4 linked regions of the Homo sapiens genome follow. The protein of the gene in region 1 interacts with the protein of each later gene in a pairwise test. Each region holds a gene or a part of one and is shown on either strand. Other genes may lie near its edges. The genes, in order: NRAP, PRKAA2, KLHL41 and TRIM63.

Region 1 (7,201 bases):
ACCAAGAGACTTTCGAGCCTCAACCATCCTTACAATTTCGGGGTCTGGCAGAGCTCCTGGGCACCAAGCATTCCCTTCCCCATATCCAGTCCAATAGGCTCTCTACAAAGGAAGCACATGAAGGGATACAAACACATGCCCCAGACTCCCAGCAACACTTACATACATTGTCAAAAGAAGATATTCTTAAACATTATAAACTCCTATTGGTAAATCCTGGGTCTCAGCTAACTGAAATGTTCATTTATTTCAGGCTAGAAAATGACCTAAGATTCTAAATAATTGAACTTTCTGAGAACCACTTATGTTACAGGAAAATTTTGAATGTAACAACATTTTCTTGCACACCATTGCATCAAGATTGGGCGAGGAGGAGGGGAAATCACTGTGGACAGGTAATCTGAGATTAATCAACATTATTCAGACAAATGTCAAAAACCTACTACCTGTTATGTGCTTGACAACTGACAATGGCAATAAAAGCAAAAAAAAAAAAAAAAAAGGAAAGGCAAAGTTTCTCTTTTAAGATACTCATGACCTACCACCTTGGGAGATAAAACTAACATGAAATAAATAGCAATTAGAAAACAGTTATGTGTTTAAGTGTATTGTCTGAGTGATAAGTACAATAAGAATCTTTAAAAAGCAGTCTGTAAGAGATGGGTCCCATATGGGGCAGGAAGATAGAATTTGAGCTGTACCTCCAGGGCTGAGGGCAATTAGTAGAGGCCAAGGGAGAACGAATGGCATCCACTTTAGAAGGTCCGTTCCATGAAGGCAGGGATTTTCATGTCTGGTTTACTAACGCATCCCAAAAGCTTGGAACAGTGTGTAGCAACTCATAGACTCAATAATTATTTGTTGAATAAATTCCAGGAATGTAGGCTGCCATGAATAAAAGCATGAAGGCAGTGATGGGCTCAGTAATTAGGACCATGAGGAGCTGGGTTTGATTGGACACAAGGGAAAGAGATGGGGAGCCAGGTGGGCTGGAGGGGGGCAAGTTGGACAGGTTGGATAGAGCCAGCCTTTGGAGATCCAGAAAGACAGATTATTCATATGTGAAATTATACTCAACCTGACTAGCAATCAGGGACATCTAAATTGAAACAAGATGCAGATTGTCCAAACACTTATCTGACAATACCAAGTGATGGTTAGAATGTTGGGAAACAGGCATTCTCACACACTGCCTTTGGGAGTATAAAATGTACAGCTATTTTAGAATTCAATTTGAGCCTCCATTAAAATTTAAAAGGGACATACCCTTTGATCTAGCAACTTTGTTTTTTCATTATCTAGTCTAGAAAAACACTCACTTGTATACAAAAGAGGTCTTGAACAAGAATGTTCCTTGCAAATTTGCAATAGAAAAAAAATTTTGGAATAATCCTGTCTATCAATAGGATAGTATGGTATTGTACATCCATTTTTTTTTTTTTTTTCCCTTGAGACAGAGTCTTGCTCTGTCACCTAGGATGGAGTGCAGTGGCACTATCTCAGCTCACTGCAACCTCCGCCTCCTGGGTTCAAGCAATTCTCCTGCCTCAGCCTCCCGAGAAGCTGGGATTACAGGCATGTACCACCATGCCTGGCTAATTTTTATATTTTTAGTAGAGATGGGCCATGTTGGCCAGGCTAGTCTCGAACTCCTGACCTCAGGTGATCCACCCACCTTGGCCTCCCAAAGTGCTAGGATTACAGGTGTGAGCCATGGCACCTGGCCTTGTATATCCATACTTAATGGTGCACCTATGATACACCCATTCACGATAGCTTAAAAGGATGCTGATGTAGAAATATTTCCAAGATATTTGTTGAGTGAAAAATACACACTTCACAACAATGCATATTGTTTCATGAAAAAAGTATACATTTTAATAGAAATATACTGTAAACCAAAAATAAAATTCTAAGCCCCCTAACTATCTGAACAGATCCCTCCTCTCAGCCAAGGACATTCGAAAGTTAACCTGCAAAACTGGTTCAGGCCATGATGGAAAGGGGGAGGTCGAACATGTCTCATTATACCCGCCTCCCTTTCGGAATTCAAGAAAAGCCTACCGACCAGCATTAACACCAACACATACTCTAAGTCTGATAAGAAATATTTACAATCTATTCTCTCTGAAACCTGCTGCTTGGAGGCTTCATCTGCATGATAAAACTTTGGTCTCCACAACCCCTTATTGTAATCCAGACATTTCTTCTATTGATTTCAGGTCTTTAGTTAATAACTCTTTAAATCAATTGCCAATCAGAAAACTTTAAATCTACCTATAACCTGAAAGCCCCCACTTCGAGGTGTCCTGCCTTTCCAGATGGAACCAATGTACACCTCACATGTACTGATTGATGTCTCATGTCTCCCTAAAATGTATAAAAGCAAGCTGTACTCTGACCACCTCTGGCACAGGTTGTCAGGACCTCCTGAGGCTGTCGTGGGTGTGTCCTTAACCTTGGCAAAATAAACTTTCTAAATGGATTGAGACCTGTCTCAGATACTTTTGGGTTTATATAACATATATACATATATAATTTTCAATAACAAGTAATACTAGCTGATATTTATTGTGCCTACCACTGTTCTAAGATCTTTTGTTCATCGCAATATCATTATGTTAGGAAGTGTTTTTGAAGTTCACCTTACAGATGAGAAAGTTGAAGTAAAGAATGGTTAAATAACTCATTTAAGATCCTTCAATAAATGGTAGCATGTCCAAATGTAAATTCTAGAAAGATATGGTTTTATTTGCAAATCAATAGAGAAAAGTCTGGAAGGATGCTATCCACAAGATTGACGAGAGTGGGTACTTGTACAAAGAAAACTGGAATTGGAGGTGGTGGATAAAGGGTTAGCTTTGTACTGTTTGGATTTTTTTTTATAATAAGAATAATGCAAATTCTTATGTGTATATTATGTGTGTAAATAAAATAAATGGCTAAGGAATTCTGAAATGATGAGTCTGTCAACAGACAGGGGAGGTGGGAAGAGTAAGTCAGGGACACCTAGGAAGCTGGGAGCCTCCTGACCCATGTGAGTACAACAGGCTGGAGAGAGGCCAGCCTAGAGGAGGGAAAGCAGCCACCTTGGGAGGCCTCGTAAAGGTCCAGGCAGAAAATGATGTAGATCAGAACGGGGAGAGTGGAGAGAAAAGGGTGGAGCTGAGTGAAGTGTCAGAGAAAGACAGGGTAGCCTTGGTTTCAAACCTGGGTGATAGAAATACAGTGGTTGGAAGGGGAAGACAATGAACCTGGTCTGGGGAAGATAGAGTTCAGGTGATATTAGGACACGCTGATTGAGGTCTTCCATAGACAGCTGGAATTACAAACTGGGTGAAAGGAAACCTACTTGGTTTTCTCTAGAAGTAATAATAATAATACACTCAATTGACATAGTATGTCATTCTTTCTTTTTCCAAACCCACTTGTCACTTTTCTCTCACCTCATTTGCCAGTGGCTGCCTGTTAGGTGCACCTTCCTTATCCTTGGATTTCATGTCCCAGTGAAAAACTGATTTACACTGTTCACCATCTTCTTGGTCATGGATCTGCTCAAGGAAGATGTTGTCAGTAATGTTTCCATCAGAAAAGAGAAAAAAACATAGACAAACAATTCCTAGCTAAAATTGGGGGATTTTGCTAAGTCTCAACTGCAAAGCATCTTCACTGTGCTGCAAGGCACACTGTGCTGTCAGTCTCCCTGTGGTTTAATCTGCACCTCCAACCAGGTGGCACATATAGAGCACCTGCTGTGTGTGAAGCTCTTTGAAGCAGTGCAATTAAAGTGACTGAGATAAAGTCTTTATAAACCTACCACACAATACAAATTAGAGTAACCTCAGAAAACATTGGGCATTAGAGTACTGGTTCTTAATTTTAGTCATGTAACCATCACCCAGGGAGCTTATTAAAATGCTGGCTCCTCAATTTTATGAAGATATTCTTCTTATGCCTCACAATTTTACCTTTAACATCCTGATTTATAATACACCTTGAGTTAATTTTTACATATAGATAAGGGTCAAGGTTCATTTTTTTCTATATAAATACCTAATTACTACAGTACTGTTTATGAAAAGATCATTCTTGCTATGTTAAATTGCAGTGATGCCTTTCTTGTAAGTCAAGTGACCATATACGTGCAGCCCTATTTCTGGACCTTGTGTTGGAGTCCACTGGTCTATTTCTCTCTTCTTGTGCCAATTCTATGCTGAGTTAATAGAGTAAGTCTGCTTTTATAGAGTAAGTCTTGAAATCTGGTGAGTCCTTCAAATTTGTTCTTCAAGATTTCTTGGCTATTTTAGAAGCTTTGTGTTTTTATATTCGTTCAGAATCAGTCTGTCCATTTCCACAAAAAAACACCAGGATTTTGAATGGCACTGCCTTGAATGTATAGATTAATTGGGGGAAAACTGACCTCTCAGTAACATCTTCATAACCTTGAGATAGACAAAGATTTCTTAAATGTAAAAAGGACTAATTATAAAAGAAAAAACATCAGAAGGTCTTAGGTCCAAACTAAGATATCAAAATTTATTAGGTAGGAAGTGAGGCCCAGAAATCGGCAATTTTGGCCGGGCGCAGTACCTCACGCCTGCACTCCCAGCAATTTGGGAGGCCAAGGCAGGTGGATCACTTGAGGTCAGGAGTTTGAGACCAGCCTGGCCAACACAGTGAAATCCCATCTCTACTAAAAATAGAAAAAATTAGCTGAGCATGGTGGTGCACGCCTGTAGTCCCAACTACTCAGGAGGCTGAGATATGAGAATCACTTGAACCCAGGAGGCGGAGGTTGCAGTGAGCCGACATCACACCACTGCACTCCAGCCTGGGCAACAGAGTGAGACCCTGTCTCAAAAAAAAAAAAAAAAAAGAAAGAAAGAAAGAAATCTGAAATTTTTACAAGCTGAAGTTTAAATTCTTAATTTTAAACATAATAAGAAAACAAGCTCAGAGAAAAGTTTAAACCCAAAGGATTCTTGTTCCCTATCAAGGGCACATTCTGATATTGACTTTCCAGGGTTGCTACTGCTTAATGCTACTTGATGCATATATTTTTAAATATATACACTGAGAGATCTTTACATGCTTTTTCCTTGTATTTTTAGGAAACAATTAAATGAACATTACGTAAACTTAAAGTGGGCTTTGTTTGTTTGTTCGTTTTTTGTTTTTACCTACAAATAATACTACCAATATTTTGGGCCAGTTAATTATTTGTTGTGGAGTACTGGCTCGGGCATAGCAAGATGTTTAAGAGCATCCCAGGTCTCCACCCACCAGATGCAATAATACCCCATCAACACCAGTCACGACAATCAATATGTCCCAGACATTAACAAATGTCCCCCAGGTAGGGGTTGGGGGGAACTGCCCTCCTTGAGAACAATGTACTTTAGGAATCAGAAACACAGGACCAAAAGACCAAAATAGATATTCTGTCCACTTCTAGAAAGTTATATTTGCTGTCCTCCTTCCCCAGTGCAAATCTACCACTGGGGAGGGTTTGCCTCCCCTAGGGACCTTTCGTGAGATTCAGGATTACACCAAGGAAACAGAAAGAGGAAAAAATGCCATAAATCTTACCAGTGGGGTAAGGAAGCATGAAGGGCTAAATTTCGTTCTCTGAATAGAAGAAAACCCTAGATGTTTTATTTTTCTAAAAATTCCATTCACACCTACCAAACAGGAAATTCTGTCTTTGCAAGTATTTATTTATTTTTCAAAGGGTGACATTTAGGAGACAAAAAACCTGCAAATCTGCTTTGAATGCCAGCTTAAAATCTCTACTTTTCTCCTTCATCACCATCACTGAAAAATCTCTTTCCTTTTTTGATTTTAGCACTTTCACAATGAATTTGTTTTTTATTCAATTGTCAAAGTCTCCCAGAGATCACAGGGAGGTGAAAAGGTAATTCATAACACACCCTAGGGCAGTTGTAAGAGCTGGGCCCTGTAAGGGATATGGTTGTCCGTTTTACTTTGTCCCTGGTGGGCAAAAAGGAGAAAGTGATCTCAGTAGACAACACACACACACACACACACACACACACACACACACCATATACACATATATACATACATACATACATAAACACCATACATACATATATACACTCACTATATACACATATATACATACCACATATGCATATACATATCCCACATGCATGTACATATACATACATATGCATAAACACATACACACCAAATACATGCACACAATACACATGAACATGTGCACACACATACTCATGCACACACATCACATACACACATATAGATGTGTGTGCACACACATTCACACCTACATACACACATATACACACTCTCCGGATGCACACACACATATATATACACATATATATACACACATATACGCTGTCACATAGACGCAAACAAATACACACACGCAGGCTTCCTGGGAAGCTCACATCACTGTCTGTGGCTGGAAATAGAACCAGCAACAATCCTAGCCTTGCTCCAGGTTGGGCCTGTCATACACAGTTAAAATAAAGTGAGTCCACTCCCACCTCAAAAAGAGGAAAATAGTGTGTGACCTGTTGTGTGATTATAAGGTGGAGACATGCCTGCTGTGGCTCAGTTAGAGGAAAAATACAGACATTATGGATCTTTCTGTAGACACTGTAATAAATGCAAACAGCATTCTGAGGTAAAGTACATCTCCTCATGTTTTATGTGTCAAATCCTCGCTACACAACTGCAGAAACATATGGATATTTGAAAACATGAACAAGTGCTTTTTGTCTTCTGGAGAGTTTGCCACCCTCTGGATATATATGAAAGAGAGCCACTAATAAATATCCTAAAGTTAAACAGATCTGGATTTGTGCCCAACCAGCTGGGTAAACTAGGCAGGTTACTTAACCTCTCTGAGCTTCAGTTTCCTCAACTATAACACAATAATATTACAGAAGGTTCTTGTCAAGAACACATGAGATAATATAAAGAACTTAGCAGAGTGTTCAGTACTCTGTTTAAGTAAGAGCTAGATTCAATATTTATTGTAATTTCATGTAGCTGCTCTCAGACACCAAGAGATGAAAACAAAGTCCTAAAAGAATTAGGCTTCTCAGTAACCTAGGATTACTTGTGAATTCATAAGACTTGTGAATCCCTAGGAAGCAATGATGTCTGAGCAACAATTTGAGCCTCTGTTTCCTCACCGTAAAATGGG
Region 2 (7,201 bases), on another chromosome or scaffold:
CCGGTGAATAGACAAAGTGGTGTCTGTGGCAGGCATGTTCCAGGTTTTTACATTTTATAAATCCAAAGTGAGGTGCCTACATTAACTCAGTACACTGCACATTATTCAATGCTACAGATAAATCCAAACAGATCAAAAATCTACAATAGTTGCTTATGATTTTTTCTAAACTATGTCTCATTTAACAGTAAAAATCAATTTGTATTCCCTGAGTACAAACTGTCTAGGGAATAAGAAAAAGCAAACTCAGAATTATAAAACTGTCCTGAAAAACCCATTTGCAGAAAATGGAGAATTGTTCATGCTACATATAGCCAATACCCTGACATAGAAATATAATTATTTCTGATTAATTTAGCCTTCTGGATTCTCTTTATAGATAGCTAGTATAAAGGAATGTAAACACTAGAGATTACAAAAGTGTCTCTTAACAGGTTAATCAAAACAAAAACCCAACTTGTAAATGGTTTGCCTACTTCCCTCCCTGCATATTCTATTTGAGAAGGTAGCTGTTCCTACACTGAAACATAAGGAATTAGATCTTCATATGGTATCCCAAAGAAAAGTATTTAGAAAATGTTCACTGACTACACATTTTAAAAGTAAGAATCAGTGACACTGATTCATTACCCACTGAGCCATAAGCATGAGTCATTAGTCTCTTAGACTTTTTTTTAACAAGTAATCTTGTTTCAGGTTTTTCAGTCACCCATGCATAAGAATAATGTTGCACTCAAATAATAATACAAGATGATTAAGAAAACCAAGGTGTCATGAAACAAGTTGCAGACACAGAAAATTCTATTTAATCCAGCATTCACTCACGATGAACATGTCTGCAAGTTAAAACAAAGTAATTCTAATTTTCAATCAGATTCTCCCAACAACCAGTAAGAGAAATGGAAGTGTTAATTATTAACTACCCTAATTATGGCATTCTGGGACAGTATTTTCCTAAAAAATGTATTTCCCAAATTTGCTTTTCATGGGCTATTAAGTTTTTTAAAATGAAAAATTAATTTGGGCAAAGTTCAACAAAGTTATGTGGCTTTCTTTTTTTCACAGAAAGACCTGTCAAAGTCTTTAATGCTGACATCCACTGTCATCTTCGAGGGGAAGAGTAGCATGCAACATTTTTCAAACTTAGTCCATGCAATCATTTTTTCTGTGGAGCATCTCACAGGATATACTTTGGGAAATGCAGTTCTAGAACTACATGGAGTCCATTTCCATGATATAACTAAGGCCTTATCTATAACCTCATAATAGAAGCTCTTCTCCCGTGTCTTCACTGGAGGAAATTATTCTTAGCCCACATCTACCTATCACATTCAGAGTTTACAACACTGAAATGTGGAAATTTGGGGCTAACAACTGATTCTTTCCCTCTATCTGCCCATGAGCAACAAAAAGCCTGCTGTAACAATGTTCCAGCTCTAATTGTGCTGGACTGCATCTCCTGAAATCTTCTAAAAACCAACCACCTAGATTCACAAAATAGCTGTTTTAAAAACATACACATAAAAGAACCCAAACTGTGACCATTAGTTCTCCTAAAATTCAGTAGGTAAATATCAAGCTACAGCTGTTCATAAATACTGGCAAGAATTAGAAAACAGTAAATAATTAACTCTCAAAAAACATGGCAATAATCCATATAAGGTAATTTTGATATGAACAATTTTTTAATATCTGACCTATTAGACTAATGGAGCTAAAACATCACTGGATTCCTTCTGTTTCTCTGCCTTCAAAATTTTTGTGGATTTTGTCATTGGGGTTAAGTAATCTGATTAGTTCCTTATTTCTAAGGTAATTCCATTCATAATCAGGCAAATATTATGAGGTGGCCCTGTTTTTTCCCAAAAGAGGTATGGACCCATTTAGAGAACCCAAAACTATGCCATATCTATAATGGACCAGGCTAACACAGCAGGACTGCTTATCACTATACAAATAATCATGTAAAAATTACCTTTTGGTGCCACAAGATGGCAGTCTTTCAATAATTAAACCTTAAACTATCTCAAATTGCAACCCGCCCTCCTTCCCAAATTGGTGAACTATTCATTTATCTTGATATTAAGAAGTTGGACTTATAAGTTATTTAACATCAGTTTTTAAAAGATCTGCAAAGCCATATGATGTGACACAACGCAAACTCCTGATTCAAAGAATATTTAAAGATAGACACACTTGTTTTCCACTAACACAGGAGAAACTTAGTCTAACATTCTCATTTGCTTCTTGGCAGAACATACATTACTTTTGGCAAAGAGAAGCCTGTCAAGGTAATGTCATTTTTTTGTTTTCAAGAGCTTAATTTTTTTAGGGTAATCCAGGTAAATAAGTGTTAATTACAACATAAAAATAACAAATGAATAAATACAAATTAGATAAATTACACAGAATTTAAAATTAAATACTTTTACTAAAACAAAATATAATCAATAAACTATTATCTACCCTGCTATAGTTTGTGTTTTTTTAATCTTAAAGAAAACCTGCACAAAGCAAAACAAACAAACAAAAAAACTGGTTTTTGCTTAAAAGCACTGGTGTGTGAATATATATATTTATTTATTTAAGATAAAAATTTTTTCTTGATGTTCAAAGCTTCCCTGCCCTATCAGGTTCAACAGTAAAGGTCATAGCCAGCCCTTAGGGCCAGAACAGTGTTTTCAAACTTGGACTAGAAAAGATTCAAAGCTATATCAATCAACCACTCAGGATCAAACAATGAACAAAGACAATAGTGACTAGGTGAGGTGAGGTGAAGGGAGTGGCTTCCAATGAAGAATTAGCATTATGAGCTGCACCAGGACCCTAACACCTAACACAGAAAATAAAGATCAAAGATAAGGATTCTCATTTAAGGGACTGTTGATACTTTGCTTTGTTTCATTTAACTATTTTATCACTGTTGGTGAAATGCAAAAATAAATAGAGGCAAAAAGAATTTGAGAAAGGTAGATTTTGAAGACATTTTTTAAATGACGTAAGTTTATGTAAAAGACAAAAGTTGTTGCAATTCCAGATGTTCCAATATTAATTTGAAACTTGAAGGCTCTTAAGATAAATATATTATTCAGGGAAATCTCAAGATAAAAATCCTGAGTTAGTTACAGCTGTTTTTAAGAAACCTGAAAATTGTGGTTACCTGTTACATGACCACAGTCCTTCTGTTGAATACACTAGGCAGTATTTGTACAAATACTGTTAGAAAAACTTGGCTTCTGAAATCTTGGAGGCAGGTTTTTAAGATTTCAACATTTAAATAATATCTTACTCGTGGTTCTTTTACTTTTTAATCTTCTTTTGTTAAAATAAATTGGGGGCATAAACACAGCATAAAGCCTACTGAAATTTAGGAAGTAAACTAGATTTACCTACACCAAACAGCAAAGCAAGGAGGTGTTGCCAAACCACCCTTACATTGAGATGGTTCGCCAGTGTGGTGTGTTAATCGTCTGTAGTGAACTCATTATTGTAATTAAAAATCTTCATTGATATTAACCTATTAAAGATATTGCCTATGTGAATTTATCATAGGCACAATAGAATTACAGATTTCTACAAGTAAATAAGATGTCAGATATTTTGTTTTCAGTAATTTCAATAGCATTGTGTGCCCCTGGAAATAATTCATGTTTCTCAATTAGTATTGCAGTGGATATTATCCAAAAGTAAGATAAAAATTTAAAGAATATAACTGATTTTCATAGTGCAATAACAGAAAGAAACTAGAGACAGATCAACGGGCTAAAGTAGTAATCAGACTGGCACACATTTCAAAAAAATCCATGGTGTGACTGCCCAGGCGAGGTGAAACTGAAGACAATGTGCTTCCGGTCAAAGAGCCAGTGAGAGAGCCAGAAAGTGAATGGCTCTCTGCAGTTGTGGAATCAAAACTTGATCTTGGTCTGTGTAAGCCAGCAGCAGAACAGGAACGCTGAGGTGTTGAGGAACCAGATCTCTGCTCCACTACTTCATCTGAAATGGACCAAAGAAGAGCAATTTATATGGAAAGTATATATGCCCAAGCCCTTCCTATGAATTTATGATATTCAGAATATTAAGTAAACACATCTGAGCAAGGGCAACTTAATAATGAATGTCATGTTTCTGTGTTGTAGAAACACAGTCTTCTTCCTTCCAACAATCATAACAAACATCGCTACCAATCACAAGACTTGCACACAGTCAAAATGTGGCCCCTAAGTCCTGCTCAAATTGGAGTAATCGGCATTGATATTGGAATCAAACTGATATCTCTGCATGTGAAGAAAGCATATCCTTGACAACTTATTTTCTTCTAGCATATCAACAAAAAAAATCACTAAGGTAAAAACAAAAGTCACCATCATATATTGCCTTGGGGAGGTGGAGGGCAAAGTGAGAGAAATCTTGTTAAAACTGCATTTTCTACGATTCCCAGGACCAATCTCCAGAAATTCTGATTTAATAGGTCTGGAGTGGTTCCCAGGGATCTGCGTTTTAATAACAACAACATGTAATTTCGATGAAACAGGTCTGGGATCCATATAAACACTACCATACATAGTTGATGGTAGTTCAAGAGTAAAATTTAAATGCTTCGTTTAAAACAACTTCCCTAACTCTAAACTCCGTTCCATTCTTGTTCCATCCAGCACCTGACCCTTAGTTTATTCTGGTTTTATCCCACTTGGGCCTCTGAAATGAATAATCAGATTTGGTTTACCCAAGTTTAATTCTTGGCACACACTAAGTTCTTGGACATGACAATTTTCCCTGACGCCTTTGGCTCCTTGATTGCCATGGGTACCTAAATCCAACCCAAATCCCAATGGAGACCTATTTGGTCGCCCTGGCCACCCAGGATGAGGAAAGGTGATGAAGGAGAAAGTTTAGACACTATAATACTAACTAATAAAATATGAATGGAGAAATATGACAAAGAATCTGACAAGTCAGTTAATTTTGAAAAGTAAAACCTGCTTCCCTGTTGTTCCTTACTTGTGCTCCACGGCCAACACTTCAAATGATTCTTTTACGCCACGGAGATACTTCTTGTGGAAAGATGCCAGGTAAGAGGTATTCAACATGTCTTTCATCCTTTTCACTTCACTTACATTTTGGTTAAGTCTAGATTGCTTAAAAACCAGTGCAGGACCTACCCACCGGATGTCTTCGAGATGATTTTAACATCTGGTCAACTAGTGCCAAGTTTTATCTTCTCAGAGCTCATGCATGCATAGCTTCCTTACCATCAATGCTTTTAAAGTCCAAAAGATAGCTCCTGTTATCAACCAGGTAAAGTTGTAAGCTCATTTTCACGTAATTGCCAGTCACTGGATTTTTTCTTCTTACACGAAGATGGTATGCATTCACTACCTAAAGTGAAAAATCAATAAAAATAATAAACTACAAAATATCTACCTTTTTATGCAAAAAAAGTCAAAACAAATAATTAATAGGGGTGAGGTAGGAAAGGAATACGAATAATTTTTTTATATTACTGGTAGTTCACTTTAGTATTTATTTAATCCCCACTAAGCAGTACTGTATGGCAATTAAGATTTAAAGGAAAAGCTACTTGAATAAATTTGGGGTACTGAAGAAAAAAGTGAAAGATAAAGGAAAAACTTAAAGAGAACCCAGAGATTACATAGGGTCCAGCTTTCACTCTAGATAAGCATCAACTCTAAAACATCAATTCTAATTTGGTTGTCCAGTCTCTGCCTGAACATGTTCATGGATGATTATGGAGTAGAAGGAACAAAGAGGACCAGGCACAGTGGCTCACGCCTGTAATTCCAACACTTTGGGAGGCCAAGGTGGGTGGACCGCCTGAGCCCTGGAGCTTGAGACCAGCCTGGGCAACATGGTGAAACCCCATCTCTACAAAAACATACAAAAAAAATCAGCCGAGTGTGGTGGCAGGCGCCTGTAGTCCCAGCTACTAGGGAGGCTGAGGTGAGAGGATAGCCTGACCCTGGGTTGCAGTGAGCCAAGATCGCGCCACTGCACTCCAGCCTGGGCAACAGAGTGAGACCCTGTCTCAAAAAAACAAACAACAACAACAAAAAATAAACAAAAAAACAACACTGCTTTGGGTTTTCAAAACATCTGTGGTACTAATTTCAAAATGTTTCAGTACAGAATTTTAAAAATGTTAACGTCTCTTTTTTAACTAAATAAGACTGCTCCAAAACAGAGAGATCTGTTTTTTAAATGATTTTAAGAAAATATTCATTTCATGTACAAATAATAAAATGAAAATGACTGATTTATTTGAACACGTCAAATGCATATTTATGTGGTAAGTTTGCACATTTTTCTTCTTCCTTTAAAAGTTCACAATCCTCAAGAAAAGAACAAGAGTGAAAGGCATATCTGAAAAGAAAAAATGCCCCTCCCCACACATATATTCAAATAGAACTCAAATGAAATTGAGCACTAATTTTTAAGAAAAGCAAACTGTGGGCTGAGAGTAAGGAAAATGTACTCTAAGTATTAAAAGCACTAGCCAAATAAAAGAGAATATCACAACTTGGAGAAAAGTGTTTATTGACTGAATAAATATGTCCTGATGATATAATTTGTATCAACCACTAGCTATTACAGCCACCTGCCTCTGTCACCTAAAAAAAAGAGAAAAGAAAAATAACCTCCCTAAAAAAAAAAAGAGAAAGTAAAAACATACTATCTTTGAAGACACTCATGATTTTTCATTGCTATGATGCATGCTGAAACTGGTAAGCTATTTTCTCAGATGATTTCTAGTTGATTACTTTTTTCTTGACCAAGAACACTTCTATAATTCAAAATATGTTGGTTCCCAGTATCAACCACTTTTCATCCTTATAGAGGTTATTTGTTTTGTTTTTAATGTGCATAGCATATTACTAGAAAAAGTTGGGCTTAATACTCAACTCAGGAGCTCAGAGCAGCTTATAATATAGAAAAATGGCTTCTACAAATGATCTTATTACATTATAATTTCCTACCTTCCATTCAAAATCCAGCTGCTTCATAGCTCGGTAAACTTCAGCCATAATGTCATACGGTTTGCTCTGACTTCGGATTCCAAGATGCCACTTGGCTTTTTTCACAGCTAAAGATTTGGGCTTAGTCGTATTCAGTGCATCCAATGGACATCTTGCTTTGGGGCTGTCTGCTATAAGAGGTGGCATCCTTTCTGGATGAGGTTTCAGGC
Region 3 (8,118 bases), on another chromosome or scaffold:
CTCATGTAAATATTGTCTGATGAGTCACAACCCTCTTTTATGGTGAAGTGTTTTTATCCTGGCATACCGTTCTATTAGTGCCTTTTAAAAGCAGCAAGGCATTTGCTTTGCTGACCTTCCAACTTTGTATAACTGTTATTGTTAATGTTCTGTTATACAGAACATTAAGTAGGTTTCTTGAACCAAAAATGAGAAGCTGCGTCAGTAAAAGTAAGGGTTTTATTAGGCTGGAAGAGGACAAAGATTAAACTGAACACTTGAAAGTAAAAAGGACCGTGTTATAGATATATTCAATAAATTAAATATGAAATGAAATTTAAAACTCCAGTAATTTTGGAGAATCATTCCATGGCAACAACTATTCCGTGGATCTGTCATTTGTAGGTATCTACCTATATGTCTGTCATCTGTCTATCTGTGTTTTTATAACATTCTTACTTCCTGGATGTATTTATAGCCTTTTTCATTGACTTTGCCACTTTTGACGTTTATTTGACTTTAAAATTAGGGCTTGGGAAATTTTCTGACCCACATTCAAATACTTATAACATTCTTCACTGGAACTTTGAAAATTAAGAAACATGATTAATATGTATTATCACAACTACATTTTTCAAGATTAGAAAAAGTTGATTAAAGGTATAATAGTATTTTGTGAATGCAAAGTATATCACACACTTTGAGAGCATACTGTGACTGTGGTATGACATTGTATACTTGCTTATCTTTGGCCTTTCCAACTAAAGTGCCCATAAGCCCCAGCCATGATTAGCTATGACCTAAACAAACTCTTTTGAGCCAGTTGTAAGCTATAAAGTTTCGGTATTGGCATTATGGAAGACAAAGGTTAAGCCAACTCCTTCATAAACTGATAAAGTATAACACATTGATAATATAAGACAAATTCCTTTCAAACAACTAAGGGTATATTGGTTTAGGAGAATTAATTTTCTTGGAAAATTCTGTGGTTTCACAAAACAGATTGTTAAGTTCTAATAATGTCTAAATGTATCTCTGATCCAAATAAATGTGATATAATAAAAATTTCTAACTATAATTAATTCAAATTAGCGACTTTTGTGTAGACAGTTTTTCCTAGAAGATAATCCAAAGTGTGTGGAATATATATACAAGTTTTTTTCATTTTCAACAAAATTATATTTTAGGCAGTAACCATAAATAAGAGATGAAGTGCTACCTCCAAGAACTTCAAATGAAGTTCAGGGAAACTTGGAAGAAGGTAGAAAATCTGACCAATTTAGAGCTGCCAGCAGATGAAGAAGAAAAAGAAATTAAAAAAGAAAATCTGACCAATTATTACTTCTTTATAATGGATAAGAACTTTGATTTAGGGAAACTATTTGGGGAAAGACATTAACTATTTTTAATAGGTAAGAGTATACAAGATTAAATTTAGTTTTTACAGCAGGGGGTGGTGGCTCACACCGGTAATCCCAGCACTTTGGGAAGCCAAACTGGGAGTATTGCTTGAGCCCAGGAGTTCGAGACCAGCCGGGGCAACATAGTGAGAGCCCATCTCTGCTAAGAAAAAATAAATTTAGTTTTTACTAAAATACTGGGCTTTGAGGGATTACAGTCACGATCATCTATAAACAAGGCATTTTTGGTAAAATAGTATAAAGAACATCTTAAGTCATTAAACATGAATTAGAACCTCATTATTCACCAAACTTTTTATTACACATTAACAAAGCAGTCAAATATTTTTCTGTCAACGCTCTATACAGCAAAAGTGCAAGGGACTGGAATAGGACATCAATTAGAGTAAAATGCAAGCAGCTTGAATAATTCACAAATTGGCTAACTGGATGGTGAGTAACAGCCTTCCCTTTAAGCAACTACATATACAAAAAGTCCTTCTTACCTGGAAGAAGTATGACTGTAGAGGTTGATCCTTATTTTCTTCATCCACATATAGTCCTCCTACCACATATATCTGATTTTGCTGGGTAACAATGCTGGAATGATTTCTGGGAATCTGCTCAGCCAGTGCAGTAAGGTAGCATTCATTTTCCGTGGGGTCATAAGCCACTGCTGCTGTGTCATTAACCAAGAGGATGAGGTCTTTTACAAACATTCCATGCCTGGGAATGTCATTCAGGTAACCAGGAAGTAAATCTTCATCACCAACATCACCATTCACCTCACCAGCCCCAGTCTTCGCGGCATTTTTGCTAGGTTCTGGGAGTTTGCCTGCGAAAGCATCTTTTAGAACTTTGATTTTTTTCTGGAGGTCTGGGTTGCTTTTAATTATATCATCTTTCTCAACATGATCCTTAAAATATTTTTCTGTCATAAGGCGAAAACGGATACAATCAAACACTTCACTAAGGTTTTTAACCCTGTTTTCCTTGTCTGTTCGCACCCATTTCATCACTGCCTCAAATACTGCTTCTTCTTTTTCTACATTTAGGCTGTCATTTGAAATGACTGAGATCAGTTCCTGTGGAGACAGTTGCATAAAGTCCTCTTCCTTACAAATCTGTACAAAGCGATCAGACACAAATTCACGGGCAGAAATGGCGAGTCTCGGGCAGTCAAGAAGAAGTCCTAATCTTAGGATGGCTAGACAGTTACCAGGAGCAAGTCTTTTCTGAAGATAAGAAACGCAGACAGTAAACACTGAGGGGATCTGAAAGCGGCTGGCCAATGCAAAAATATCTTGCACATTTCCGTCATTGAGATCAATACTGGCAGAGTACAGGTATTTGATGATTAAATCAAGTATAGCAGGATCCACATTGTCTAGCACTACCTCCTTTTTTTTCGCCTCATCAATTTCAGATAAAAAGTACTCACGGAAGTAAGGACTACAAGCTGACAAAATCAATCTGTGGCAAGGAAGACTTTTGTCACCTGCTTTTAGGGTGCAATCGATGAATTTTTTCTCATCCAGGAGATCTTTTAGACCATCCTGAAGAAGGGTGGATTGGTAAAGCCGCAGTTCCTCTGCAAGTTCCCGCTGGGAATCCATTCTGTGAGAAACCTGGGTAAGGAAGGGGACACTGAAGGCCTTAGCTCCTTGCAGCACACAGGTCTAGCTGTAAAAAGGCAGATCAGTGTGCTTTGCCCAGCTTGAAGCCTTTGCAATTTAATCCCACTAGCTAAATATAGATACCAACTCTAACAACGGGAATTTAGGAGAGCTGGCTTGGAAAGAAGAGTTGTTCTTGCAGCTGTTATAGATTGAAAGTAACAACTGGAACTTTTAATCACTAGGGAAACAGCTAAGAAACAAGACATTTAAGTGAAGTTGAAAGCTTAAAAATACATAACACATTAGAAGATATACTAATAAAGGCTACTACAAGAAAATGTTTATTGAATTAACAGAAAAATGAATCATAAAAATGAGTCACTCCTCTAAATATGTTCTAGTGTCAAGCTACTTGGCTCTCTGAATTAATGATGCAAAGGTCAAGAATATGAGATGTGTTCATTTGAATACTCATAAGCAAGATCTCATTTCCAATAATTGTTAACATACAAATTTTTACTTTCTACTCAGAACAGTGGGATATAGATATTTCTTTTAGAAGTAGTAAACTTAAAGATGTTTACTTCTGTACTAGTTTTACAAAACCTTTAATGTTGCCATGATAATTGAAAAAAGAAATGCAGAGGAATTGCTAATTTTCTAAAACATTCCAAATTATTCTTACATGGAAAAACTGTAATTAATATTGAATTAAATTATAAAATTATTTATTCATATCCTGCCTTGTCATACAAATGATCTAATGTGGCAAACGATAATAAGGTAAAATAAAAGCAAAAGGTTAAAAGGAATCACAGAGCCAGAAAAAATAATTAAAAGTCAATCTAGGGAACGAAAAAGTCCACACACATTCAAATAAGATCACAAAAGATAATCTGTAATTTTAAATATCAAAAATTATCATTCATTAAATAAAACGTGAAAAATAGAACAGATATAACCCCATGAGAACAATGTTATCACTAAACACAGCAAAATCAAGATGAACTCCTACAATGGTCATAGAGAACAGCCCCCCCTTTTTTTAAAGAGTATATAACTGGGGACATAACGTAGGCTGTTGATTATAATAGAATACCATATTAATTATGGAGGTAGAAGTAATGATTTGAAAGAAAATCGGTCCTTTGTTTATATATAGATGGTATAATATACTTCATTAAATACTTTCATTTATTTATTTATTTTTGAGACAGAGTCTCGCTCTGTCACCCAGGCTGGAGTACAATGGCGCAGTCTCGGCTCACTGCAACTTCTGCCTCCCGGGTTCAAGCAATTCTCTTGCCTCAGCCTCCCGAGTAGCTGGGATTACAGGCACCCGCCACCATGCCTGGCTAATTTTTGTATTTTTAGTAGAGACAGGGTTTCATCATGTTGGCCAGGCTGGTCTCGAACTGCTGACCTCGCGATCCGCCTGCCTCGGCCTCCCAAATTGCTGGGATTACACGTGTGAGCCACCGCACTGGGCCCATTAAATACTTTATTACACAGTCATATTGTCACATTATCTGAACTCAAGTAGGGCTGTAGAAATACTGTAATTTCAAAAGTTGGTATTTTTACACATACCCCCAAAAACAAATTCCATGAAGACAGGGATTGTGGGAGTGTCTGTTCTTTTCAAATGCTATAGCGTAGGGGTTTCGTGAGTGCTTTATAAGTATTTGTTGAATGAATGAATGCCCCAGATCAAGGAATTATGTATTTTTAAACTTCAAGGTCTCTATCCATGAGTAAAGGCCTTTTCTTTTATTTTACATCACAGTGAAGTCAATGGTACTGTCAGCTGCTAAAACAACAGCTGAAAGAAGAGCTCATTGACTCTTTTTCCATTTATAGATGCCACTAAAGGTTTTAACACACCAGAAAAAACTAACAGCTGCTTCCTTGTTTAAACAATAAATGACTCATTTCTCTCTACATGTAACATCTAACATTTGAAAAGATTAATGAGTCAGATGCAAACATCATATGACATTTGAGATTATTCCTTACTAGTCAGCAATTTTATAGTCTCTTTTGCTTGAAAAAAACAATATTTAAACAATAGTTATGGCAGCATTTTATCTGTGACCAGTACAAATTTTTCATACATTCTTTCCCCTCGTCTTAAAGGTGGTTTATTATAATTCCAACCCTTAAAATGTAGAAATCCTTTTCCATTTAAATGAAGAAGCCAATTTGTAGCTTTTGTTGATTTTTAATAAACTTAGGTTAGCACTTGGTTGTACTGTATGTCTATGGTTGTACACAGACTTGCATCTTATTTTAAATGTTTTTACATACTTTTCCCTCTGGAAGAAGAGGGCTCCTTTGGCTAATTTCAATTATTTGAAAAAGATTCCTTACAATGTGTTTTACACGGAAACAGTGGTCAAAAACACCGAATGATCCTAGAGAGGTCAACAAGTCTTACCTAACCAAGAAATGAGAAAAATAATATCCTATTTTTGAAAATTCAAAGAAGTTTCAATAAATACAAAGAGAAAGTTAATAAACAAAGCTATTTTCTTACAAAGTAAATGTATTCTTGCCAAAACTACATTGAAATTCTTACAAAATAGCATCCAAAGCACTTTAAAGGGGGGGGTTGATGTATTCCAGAGTTAGTTGTAATTTTTAGTTTTTACAAAAATGACAGGTTTAAGGATTACAATTTGTATTAGAGTTGGTTTACATTTGGAGCTATGTGATTATTTATTTATTTATTTATTGAGATGGAGTCTTGCTCTGTTGCCCAAGCTGGAGTGCAGTGGTGCGATCCTTGGCTCACTGCAGCCTCCACCTCCCAGGTCCAAGTGATTCTCGTGCCCCTCCCAGGTAGCTGGGACTACAGGTGCCCACCACACGCCCAGCTAATTTTTATATTTTTAGTAGAGACGGGTCTCACCATGTTGGCCAGGCTAGTCTCAAACTTCTGACCTCAAGTGATCTGCCTGCCTCGGCCTCCCAAAGTGTTGAGATTATAGGCACGAGCCACCATGCCTGGCCAGGAGCCATGGGATATTTAAACCAGATTTTTACAATTAAGAAAGCAGAATTTTGATTATTCCGTAAGAATAGTCTTTTTCTTTTAAATAATACTTTCAAAACGTTAAATGGTGCTGCATAAATTCTTTATTAAACCGAACATGATACAGTCACTTAATGTCTGAAAACTAAGACTTTACAGGTATTAAGTACAAAATAAACATTTATAAACTAGGTACATTTTGATTACAATTTTAAATATAATTTTTAGAAAACTGAAGTTTTTTTTTTTTTATTATACTTTAAGTTTTAGGGTAAGAATTTTTCTTAGTACAGAACAAAATGAAAAGTCTCCCATGTCTACTTCTTTCTACACAGACACGGCAACCATCCGATTTCTCAATCTTTTCCCCACCTTCCCCCCACCTCCACTCCACAAAGCCGCCACTGTCATCATCGCCCGCTCTCAATGAGCTGTTGGGTACACCTCCCAGACGGGGTGGTGGCCGGGCAGAGGGGCTCCTCACTTCCCAGTAGGGGCGGCCGGGCAGAGGCGCCCCTAACCTCCCGGACGGGGCGGCTGGCCGGGCGGGGGGCTGACCCCCCCACCTCCCTCCCGGACCGGGCGGCTGGCCGGGCGGGGGGCTGACCCCCCCACCTCCCTCCTGGACGGGGCGGCTGGCCGGGCAGAGGGGCTCCTCACTTCCCAGTAGGGGCAGCCGGGCAGAGGCGCCCCTCGCCTCCCGGACGGGGCGGCTAGCCGGGCGGGGGGCTGATCCCCCACCTCCCTCCCGGACGGGGCGGCTGGCCGGGCGGGGGGCTGACCCCCCCACCTCCCTCCCGGACGGGGTGGCTGGCGGGGCAGAGGGGCTCCTCACTTCCCAGTAGGGGCAGCTGGGCAGAGGCGCCCCTCACCTCCCGGACGGGGCGGCTGGCCGGACGGGGGACTGACCCCCCCACCTCCCTCCCGGACTGGGTGGCTGCCGGGCGGAGACGCTCCTCACTTCCCAGACAGGGTGGCTGCTGGGCAGAGGGGCTCCTCACTTCTCAGACGGGGCGGCTGCTGGGCAGAGGGGCTCCTTACTTATCAGACGGGGCGGTTGCCAGGCGGAGGGTCTCCTCACTTCTCAGACGGGGCGGCTGGGCAGAGTTGCTCCTCACCTCCCAAATGGGGTCGCGGCCGGGCAGAGGTGCTCCCCACATCTCAGACGATGGGCGGCCAGGCAGAGAAGCTCCTCACTTCCTAGATGGGATGGCGGGTGGGAAGAGGCGCTCCTCACTTCCTAGATGGGATGGCGGCCGGGCAGAGACGCTCCTCACTTTCCAGACTGGGCAGCCAGGCAGAGGGGCTGCTCACGTCCCAGACAATGGGCAGCCAGGCAGAGACGCTCCTCACTTCCCAGACGGGGTGGCGGCCGGGCAGAGGCTGCACTCTTGGCACTTCGGGAGGCCAAGGCAGGCAGCTGGGAGGTGGAGGTTGTAGCGAGCGGAGATCACGCCACTGCACTCCAGCCTGGGCACCATTGAGCACTAAGTGAACCAGACTCCGTCTGCAATCCCGGCACCTCGGGAGGCCGAGGCTGGCGGATCACTCGCGGTTAGGAGCTGGAGACCAGCCCGGCCAACACAGCGAAACCCCGTCTCCACCAAAAAAATACGAAAACCAGTCAGGTGTGGCGGCGCGCGCCTGTAATCGCAGGCACTCGGCAGGCTGAGGCAGGAGAATCAGGCAGGGAGGTTGCAGTGAGCCAGAGATGGCAGCAGTACAGTCCAGCTTCGGCCATTTTGGGAAGAAGTTCTTTATCAGCTCCCTTGAAAAAGCACACGTAGATCACCAGTCCTCTTTGGACCTCCACCCACTGGGCCGCAACGTCCCCATTGGCTGGGCGAATTTGCAGCCGGGCGTGCAGGCACTGCTGTAGGAGCGCCCGGGCCTGAGGAATCCAGCTACCCTCAGCCATGGCTTAAGCCAGCGCCGCGGCCGGACGGTTACTAGGCCATGTGTCGCTGGCCCCTCCCTCGACGCGCTGGCCGAAAACTGAAGTTTTCTAAATGACTTTTTCCTCAATCATTAAAAAAACTCTTACAAGTTTTAAATATAAAAGCTGTAAATATAAAAACTATTCCAT
Region 4 (7,083 bases), on another chromosome or scaffold:
TCTGATCCTCTCTGAGCTTCCATTTCCTCATGGTAAAATGGAGACAGGAATGCCTTCCCGGGTTACTATGAGAAGCAGATAGGAAAAATGCCTGAAAGTACTTAGAACAGCGCCTGCACACAATAGGTACCCAATAAATGGTTGATACATTAACCATTTTCCATTAATATCTTATTTGACAGCCACAATAACAGATCTTACTGTTTCTGTTTGCAGACAGAGGAAATGAAGCTCTAAAGGCTTACCCAGCATGGTACAGTACATTAGTCACAGAGGCTGACTAGCAAGCACAGTTCCCCGGGTCAGGGTTTTTTCACCTGAGATCTGGTCTGTCACCTTCCCCTGGGCTGGGCACTGCCTGCAGGCAGATGCCTTGGTGAAGGCTTTGGACCTTAAAGGCTGTGAGGTCAGCACTCCTGGAGTCTTACCAGGATGTCCTGATTTGTAAAGATCTTTCCTGGAGCTGTGTCTCTCCCAAATTTTTGTGTTGTGTTGTGTTGTGTGTGTGTGTGTGTGTGTGTTTAGATGGAGTCTCACTCTGTCACCCAGGCTGGAGTGCAGTGGCACGATCTCTGCTCACTACAACCTCCGCCTCCCTTGTTCAAGCAATTCTCCTGCCTCAGCCTCCTAAGTAGCTGGGATGACAGGCACGCGCCACCACGCCTGGCTAATTTTTGTATTTTTAGTAGAGACGGGGTTTCACCATGTTGGCCAGTCTGGTCTCCAACTCCTGACCTCGAATGATCCACACACCTTGGCCTCCCAAAGTGCTGGGATTACAGGTGTGGGCCACCGCACCCGGCCTCTCAGTGTTTTTGTCTGTTTGAGGCATGGTCTCACTGTCACCCAGGCTGGAGTGCAGTAGCACAATCATGGCTCTGCAGCCTTGACCTCCCTGGCTCAACAATTCTCCTGAAGAGCTGGGACTACAGGCATGCCCCACCACGCCCAGCTAGTTTTTAAACTTTGTAGAAACAGGGTCTCACTATGTTGCCCTGACTTGTCTTGAACTCCTGGCCTCAAACAATCATCCCACCTTGGCCTCCCAGAGTGTTGGGATTATGGGCATGAGCCACCATGCCTGGCCCTCTCTCCCCAGTTTGAGGCCAACCCTTCACAACCTCCACCACTCACACATTCTGCCTATGAATGAGCTGCTATTTTATTAGCAGGAAGACTCAGAGCTAGATTGACTGGGTCAACTCCCAGCTCTTTCACTTCCCAGCTGGGAAACCTTAGCTAATTGATTTCACTTCTTGAGCCTCAGTTTCCTCATCTGTGAAATGAGGATAATAAAGTCATGCCTGATTCACAGAGTTATTGGGAGGTACTTAGATGAAGCATTCCCAGTGCCTGACGCTGTTCCTCATGGCACACGGGAGAGTAGCTGTTGCTATCCTTATAGACAACCTGGCTGTTTCTCACCGGGCATTTTCTCTGCTGACCAGAGCCACTTAGCTGGCCCCAGGGCCTTTCTCTCCCTCTCACATCTCATCTTTCCCCCAGTCTCTGTCTTGGTATTGCCTGGAAGGGCAGCCTAATGTCTGGGCCCCTTCCCATCCGCTGAGCAATCCTGAGAGCTGGGTTGGGGTGTATGGGTCTCCAGTCCTGTCTCTGAATGGCTTGTGTAGCTAGTCCAGCTAGAGGCCTGGATCCTGAGCAGATGAAGGAGGGGGAAGGAGCGTGGGGGATCTAGGCACAGCATGGCTGGGAAGGAGGGCGGGCCCCCAGCAGGCACGAGAACCGACCTGGAGCACTCCTGTTTGTAGATGTCGATGATGTTCTCCACCAGCAGGTTCCTCTGCAGGCCGTACACTCCGTGACGATCCATGATCACCTCGTGGCGGCAGGTGGGGCAGCGGAAACGGCCTCCAGACATGGACACTGAGCTGCCCCGGCTGGTCCAGTAGGGATTTGCAGCCTGCAGGTGGCAAAGGTCAAGGTGAGGCCTGGGCTCCCTACTTAGCCCTTCTCTTTTCTAATCTCCTCTTATCCTTTCCTCTGCCTATCCGAACCACCCCCGTCAAACCTAACAACCTGGAGCTCTGCAGACTGTGATGAGAACCAGTCCTCACACACAGAGCACCTGAGAAGCAGCTAAGCAATCGTCAGGATGGGGAGGCAGGAGACCTGGGTTCAAGTCATGTTTATTCTCTGAGTGATTTTGGGCAAGCAACCTTATCTGTGTAGGCCTCAGTTTGCCCACTTATGAAATAGGTATTACAATGAGAGCAAGCTCCTAAGGCTGCTACTTTAAAGATAATATCGTGAAAGAACATTTTGTAAAGTGTCCATGGGGAACCTCGCATCCTGCCTCCCAGCCAGGACATCTACCCCCTTCCTTTCTCGGGGAGTTGGAGCCCCTTCTGCCCCCATATCATAGGGAACAGCCTCAAAAGGGAAGATGCCTCTACTGCCCACTGCCTCCCTGACACCCTCCTCCCAAAGCTCTGGGCCTCTTGCCACCAGGACCTGGCTCCAGCCCCAGGGGTCTGGTTTCTCTCTCCTGTCCCTGCCTACCCCGCTTATCACTTGAGGCATTTGACTCTTGATTGGAGAGTCAACAGCAGTGCTCAGGGCAGGGGTGGGGGAGCTGTGGGCAGGGCAGGGAGGGGAAACTTGTGTTATGGAGAAGAACCGCAGCAGCCAGAGCCGCCTCCCAGCCCCCTCTCAGCCCTGTCCAGAGGCCTCTGCAGGGGTTCACTTCCAAGGGGAAAGAGGCTGTCCAGGTTGGAAGTCTAAGGGAGAAGGGTTTCATCACAGGGAAGCCAAGTAGCCACCTGGGGACCCCAAATGAAGCTGCACCCGGCACTTACCTGGAAGATGTCATTGGCACACTTCCGGCACAGGTTGTGCTGGCACGGCAAGATGACCACTGGCTTGGTAAACATCTCCAGGCAGATAGGGCAGATCAGCTGCTTCTCCAAGTTCTCCATGGGATTCCCATCCTGGATCAGGCTCGACTTATAATCCATTCTGTGGGAAGGAATGAGAGCCACGCCTAGCTGCCTCCTCTACTAACTTTGCTCTAAGTAGACCTGGGGGTCTTGCCTTTGTCACAAAACACCGGGTCGGATCCTGTTGGCTTCCTTCTCCTGGTGCCCGAATTCTGTCTTGGTCTGAGGCCCCTCTGATATTTATAGCTAGATCTTGGTCACATGAGCCCCAGGAGGGGACCAGCTGAGCATTCCGATGCCAAGCGGCTGGTGGGGCTTGAGTTTCCTCCAGGCCTGAAAGACTGGCCCTCTCAAATCACATGCAGGGATGAGCAATCACTATTCTGCTGGGACGGGGGTCATAAACAAGAACAGCCTGTTCAGAGGCAGGCTTAGGGCAAGACTGGGTACCCAGAGCTTCCTCCAGAAATTGGTCTCCCCCCGGCACCAGGCTAGTGGGTCAGGGATGGGACCCAGCAAGTGAGCCACGGGGATTCAAGGGGTTAATAGCCAATGCTATGATGAAAATGTTCGATGAATGAATTTTATTCATTCATCAGACATTTTTCTGAGTACTAGTATATACATCAGGCAACTAGTATACATCACAACGTGACAGATGGATGAGTGATCTGTTTCCCTGCCCCGAGAAACTCACAGCCCAGGAAGGGAGATAGAAAGGATTGTGCAGTGGCACGATCTCTGCTCACTGCAACCTCCACCTCCCAGGTTGAAGGGAGTCTCCTCCTTCAGCCTCCCAACCTCAACCCCCTCCCAGCCCCACGCAACCCCTCACTGACCTAAATCAATTCCATCCCCTCCTCTGGAGTCCTGGGCAGCTCCTAGATGGAAGGGTCGGGCAGCCCCTCTCTCTGAGCCCATCCCTCTGCCTCAGACTTCAGCACAGCATTTTGCTGGAGATGATGGAGACCCCCACTCCAACCAGCCCATCCTCCATCCCTCGGCCACTTATTTCACTTAGTGCTGAAAAGCCTCCTTTGAAACACAGTCCAGTCCCCTCATCTTACAGATTTTGAAATGGGACTAGAGAAGAAAAGGATTATATTCAAAGTCAGTTGGAAAGTAAGTGGCAGCCGGGCGTGGTGTCTCACACCTGTAATCCCAGCACTTTGGAAGGCTGAGGCAGGTGGATCACTTGAGGTCAGGAGTTCGAGACTAGCCTGGCCAACATGGTAAAACCCTGTCTCTACTAAAAACACAAAACTTAGCTGGGTGTGGTGGTACGCGCCTGTAATCCCAGCTACTCAGGAGGCTGAAGCAGGAGAATCACTTGAACCCAGGAGGTGGAGGTTGCAGTGAGCTGAGATCGCGCCACTGCACTCCAGCCTGGGTGACAAGAGTGAAACGCCATCTCCAAACAAAACAAAACAAAACAAAAAAGAAAGAAAATAAGTGGCAAAGACAGAAATTTTATTCATTCATCAGACATTTTTCTGAGTACTAGTATACATCAGGTAACTAGTATACATCACAACGTGACAGATGGATGAGTGATCTGTTTCCCTGCCCCAAGAAACTCACAGCCCAGGAAGGGAGATAGAAAGGAAAAACCCAGAGGGCACAGTGACTCACGCCTGTAAACCCAGCACTTTAGGAGGTCGAGGTGGGCAGACCACGAGGTCAGGAGATGGAGACCATCCTGGCCAACATGGTGAAACCCTGTCTCTACTAAAAATACAAAAATTAGCTGGGTATGATGGCAGGTGCCTATAATCCCAGCTACTCAGTAGGCTGAGGCAGGAGAATCGTTTGAACCCAGGAAGAGGAGGTTGCGGTGAGTCGAGATTGCACCACCGCACTCCAGCCCGGTGATAGAGTGAGACTCTGTCTCCAAAAAAAAAAAAAAAAGAAAAAGAAAAAAGAAAGAAAGAAAGGGAAACCCCTCATGCGGTGCCACAAAGCCCTGCCTGGACACTTAGAAGGCGTCCCTCAGCTCGCTGCACACATTTTAACTTTTCTCCATGTATTTTAGGACATCTTCCACGTTGGCAAGTAGAAGTCATTAGAGCAGTTCCAGTGGCTGGTTTTTTTTTTTTTTTTTCCCGAGATGTAGTTTCACTGTGTTGCCCAGAGGCTGGAGTGCAGTGGCGCCATCTCAGCTCACTGCAACCTCCGCCTCCCAGGTTGAAGTGAATCTCCTGCCTCAGCCTCCTGAGTAGCTGGGACTACAGGCATGTGTCATGACACCCGACTAATTTTTGTATTTTTAATAGAGACAGGTTTTCACCATGTTAGCCAGGCTGGTCTCGAACTCCTGACCTCAGGCAATCCACCTGCCTCGACCTCCCAAAGTGCTGGGATTACAGGCGTGAGCCACTGTACCTGGCCTCCAGTAGCTGTTTTTAAGGTAGCATCTAATGAAAGGACTGTGGGGTCATCTGGTCCAAGGCGATGGGGCAGAGATATGGAGCAGTGGTATCAGGGCCCAAGATGAGCCTAAGAGGCTGTGGAATACTCAGGAGGAGTATGAAGGATTTCAGGAAAGAGGAATGATGGGAGCAATGAGACAAGACATAGAGCAGAGAAGCAAACCTTGGAAGAGAGGAAATGGGAGAAGAAGAGGGACAAGTTACAGAAAAAAGAAGAGGCCTTAAAAACAAAGGGCTGGAGGATTTCGAGGAGAGAGTTGTCCCCCCAAAATTTTGCTGAGCACTTAGGTTTTGCTGAGCACTTACTATGTGCTATGCATTGTGCTAAATGCTTTGTATGCATTATTTCATTTTACCATCTCAATAGCCAATAACAAAAGACCCATAATATCCCCATTCCACAAGTGAGGAAACTCAGGCACACAGGTAAAATAACTTGTATGAGGTCCCACCGATAGCACGAGGTGGCTCTAGGACATGAACCCAAATATGCTTGACTTAGGAACCCAAGCTCCTCATGTAGACTCTATTGAACTGTGTTTAGGTCAAGTCAACACTGACTGAAAAAAGGCCACTTCTTCTTCCTTGCTCATGGGACCTCAGTTTAGTTCAGGCATTGGCAGCATTGTGCTCCAGGAAGATGGCCCTCTCCACTGCCTCAGGAGATGAGTCACACACAGTTTAAGCCTATCATACAACCCCATTCTCTTTTGCCTAATGATGCAGTTATGGTCAATGAGACCCAAGGATATGTCTGTTGGCTAAAGATAAAGGATTTCCTCCACAATAAAAATGAATGTGCAAGAAGAAAGCTTTGTCCATACCTTTGAATGGGGCTGTGAGAGGGTAGAGCAGCTATCTTGCAACCACAAGGGGACAAGGCTGAGGATGATGTCAACACCCTGAGGATAGCATAGAGGAACCATAGGAGGCACCTGGGTTAGAGATGCCATCATTTTGTTGCCAATTTATCCAACCCTAGAGCTGCCTGTCTCTTGACTACTTAAGACGTGAGATTACAAATGCCATTATAGTGTAATTACTCTGTTACTTGAAGCAGTAAGCACCTCATAAACCTGCATGATTCCGACTCCCATATGCTGATGATTCTCAACTCTCTAATTCCAGTTCCGACTTCTCCTCTCTCCCCTAAGCTAAAGATTTGTTGGAGATTTCTACTGGGATGTTCTAATAGTATCTCAAATTCATCATACTCCAGCCAGAATACACCATCTTCCCCGATACCTAGCTCCTCCCTCCATTTTTCTTGTCTCGCATCTTAGTGAACAGCACTACTGTCCACCCATTTGCACCAACCAGGAAGCTGAGAGTCATCTTAGGGCTCCCTCTTCTTCTCATCACATGCCTACTTAATCTCTGTGTCAGGCATGGCCCATCTTTGCATCTCACTTGCCGTATTACCATCGTCTGCTTGTGAGTCCGACTCTCTCTCTGGACTTTGAAGACATTGAGGGCAAAGATGGTCTCTATTCATCTCTGTACCCCCAATGCCTGGTACCTAGTAGGCACTCAACAAATGTTTCTTGGCTGGGCGCGGTAGCTCACACCTATAATCCCAGCACTTTGGGAGGTCAAGGTGGAAGGATCACTTGAGCCCAGGAGTTAGTGTGAGACCAGCCTGGGCAACATAGTGAGATACTATCTCTACAAAAAATTAAAAATTAGCTGGTCGTAGTGTTGCCCATCTGTAGTCCCAACTACTCAGTAGACTGAGGTGGGAGGATTGCTTGAGCCTG

Evidence for each region.
Region 2: the proteins of NRAP (region 1) and PRKAA2 interact in a two-hybrid assay, tested with the Homo sapiens proteins (one study listed by BioGRID).
Region 3: the proteins of NRAP (region 1) and KLHL41 interact in binary tests that used the Homo sapiens proteins (3 or more experiments, as listed by UniProt).
Region 4: the proteins of NRAP (region 1) and TRIM63 interact in a two-hybrid assay, tested with the Homo sapiens proteins (one study listed by BioGRID).

What each region holds. Positions count from the first base shown.
Region 1 is NC_000010.11:113,654,024-113,661,224, forward strand, and holds part of NRAP (nebulin-related-anchoring protein), read right to left. Parts: intron 3,552-7,201; coding exon 3,447-3,551; intron 103-3,446; coding exon 1-102. UniProt on the Homo sapiens protein: May be involved in anchoring the terminal actin filaments in the myofibril to the membrane and in transmitting tension from the myofibrils to the extracellular matrix.
Region 2 is NC_000001.11:56,704,267-56,711,467, reverse strand, and holds part of PRKAA2 (5'-AMP-activated protein kinase catalytic subunit alpha-2), read right to left. Parts: coding exon 6,993-7,201; intron 5,377-6,992; coding exon 5,250-5,376; intron 3,994-5,249; coding exon 3,755-3,993; 3' UTR 1-3,754. UniProt on the Homo sapiens protein: Catalytic subunit of AMP-activated protein kinase (AMPK), an energy sensor protein kinase that plays a key role in regulating cellular energy metabolism.
Region 3 is NC_000002.12:169,504,656-169,512,773, reverse strand, and holds the start of KLHL41 (kelch-like protein 41), read right to left. Parts: upstream 3,073-8,118; 5' UTR 2,996-3,072; coding exon 1,886-2,995; intron 1-1,885. UniProt on the Homo sapiens protein: Involved in skeletal muscle development and differentiation. Regulates proliferation and differentiation of myoblasts and plays a role in myofibril assembly by promoting lateral fusion of adjacent thin fibrils into mature, wide myofibrils.
Region 4 is NC_000001.11:26,064,520-26,071,602, forward strand, and holds the start of TRIM63 (E3 ubiquitin-protein ligase TRIM63), read right to left. Parts: upstream 3,112-7,083; 5' UTR 2,976-3,111; coding exon 2,817-2,975; intron 1,922-2,816; coding exon 1,749-1,921; intron 1-1,748. UniProt on the Homo sapiens protein: E3 ubiquitin ligase. Mediates the ubiquitination and subsequent proteasomal degradation of CKM, GMEB1 and HIBADH.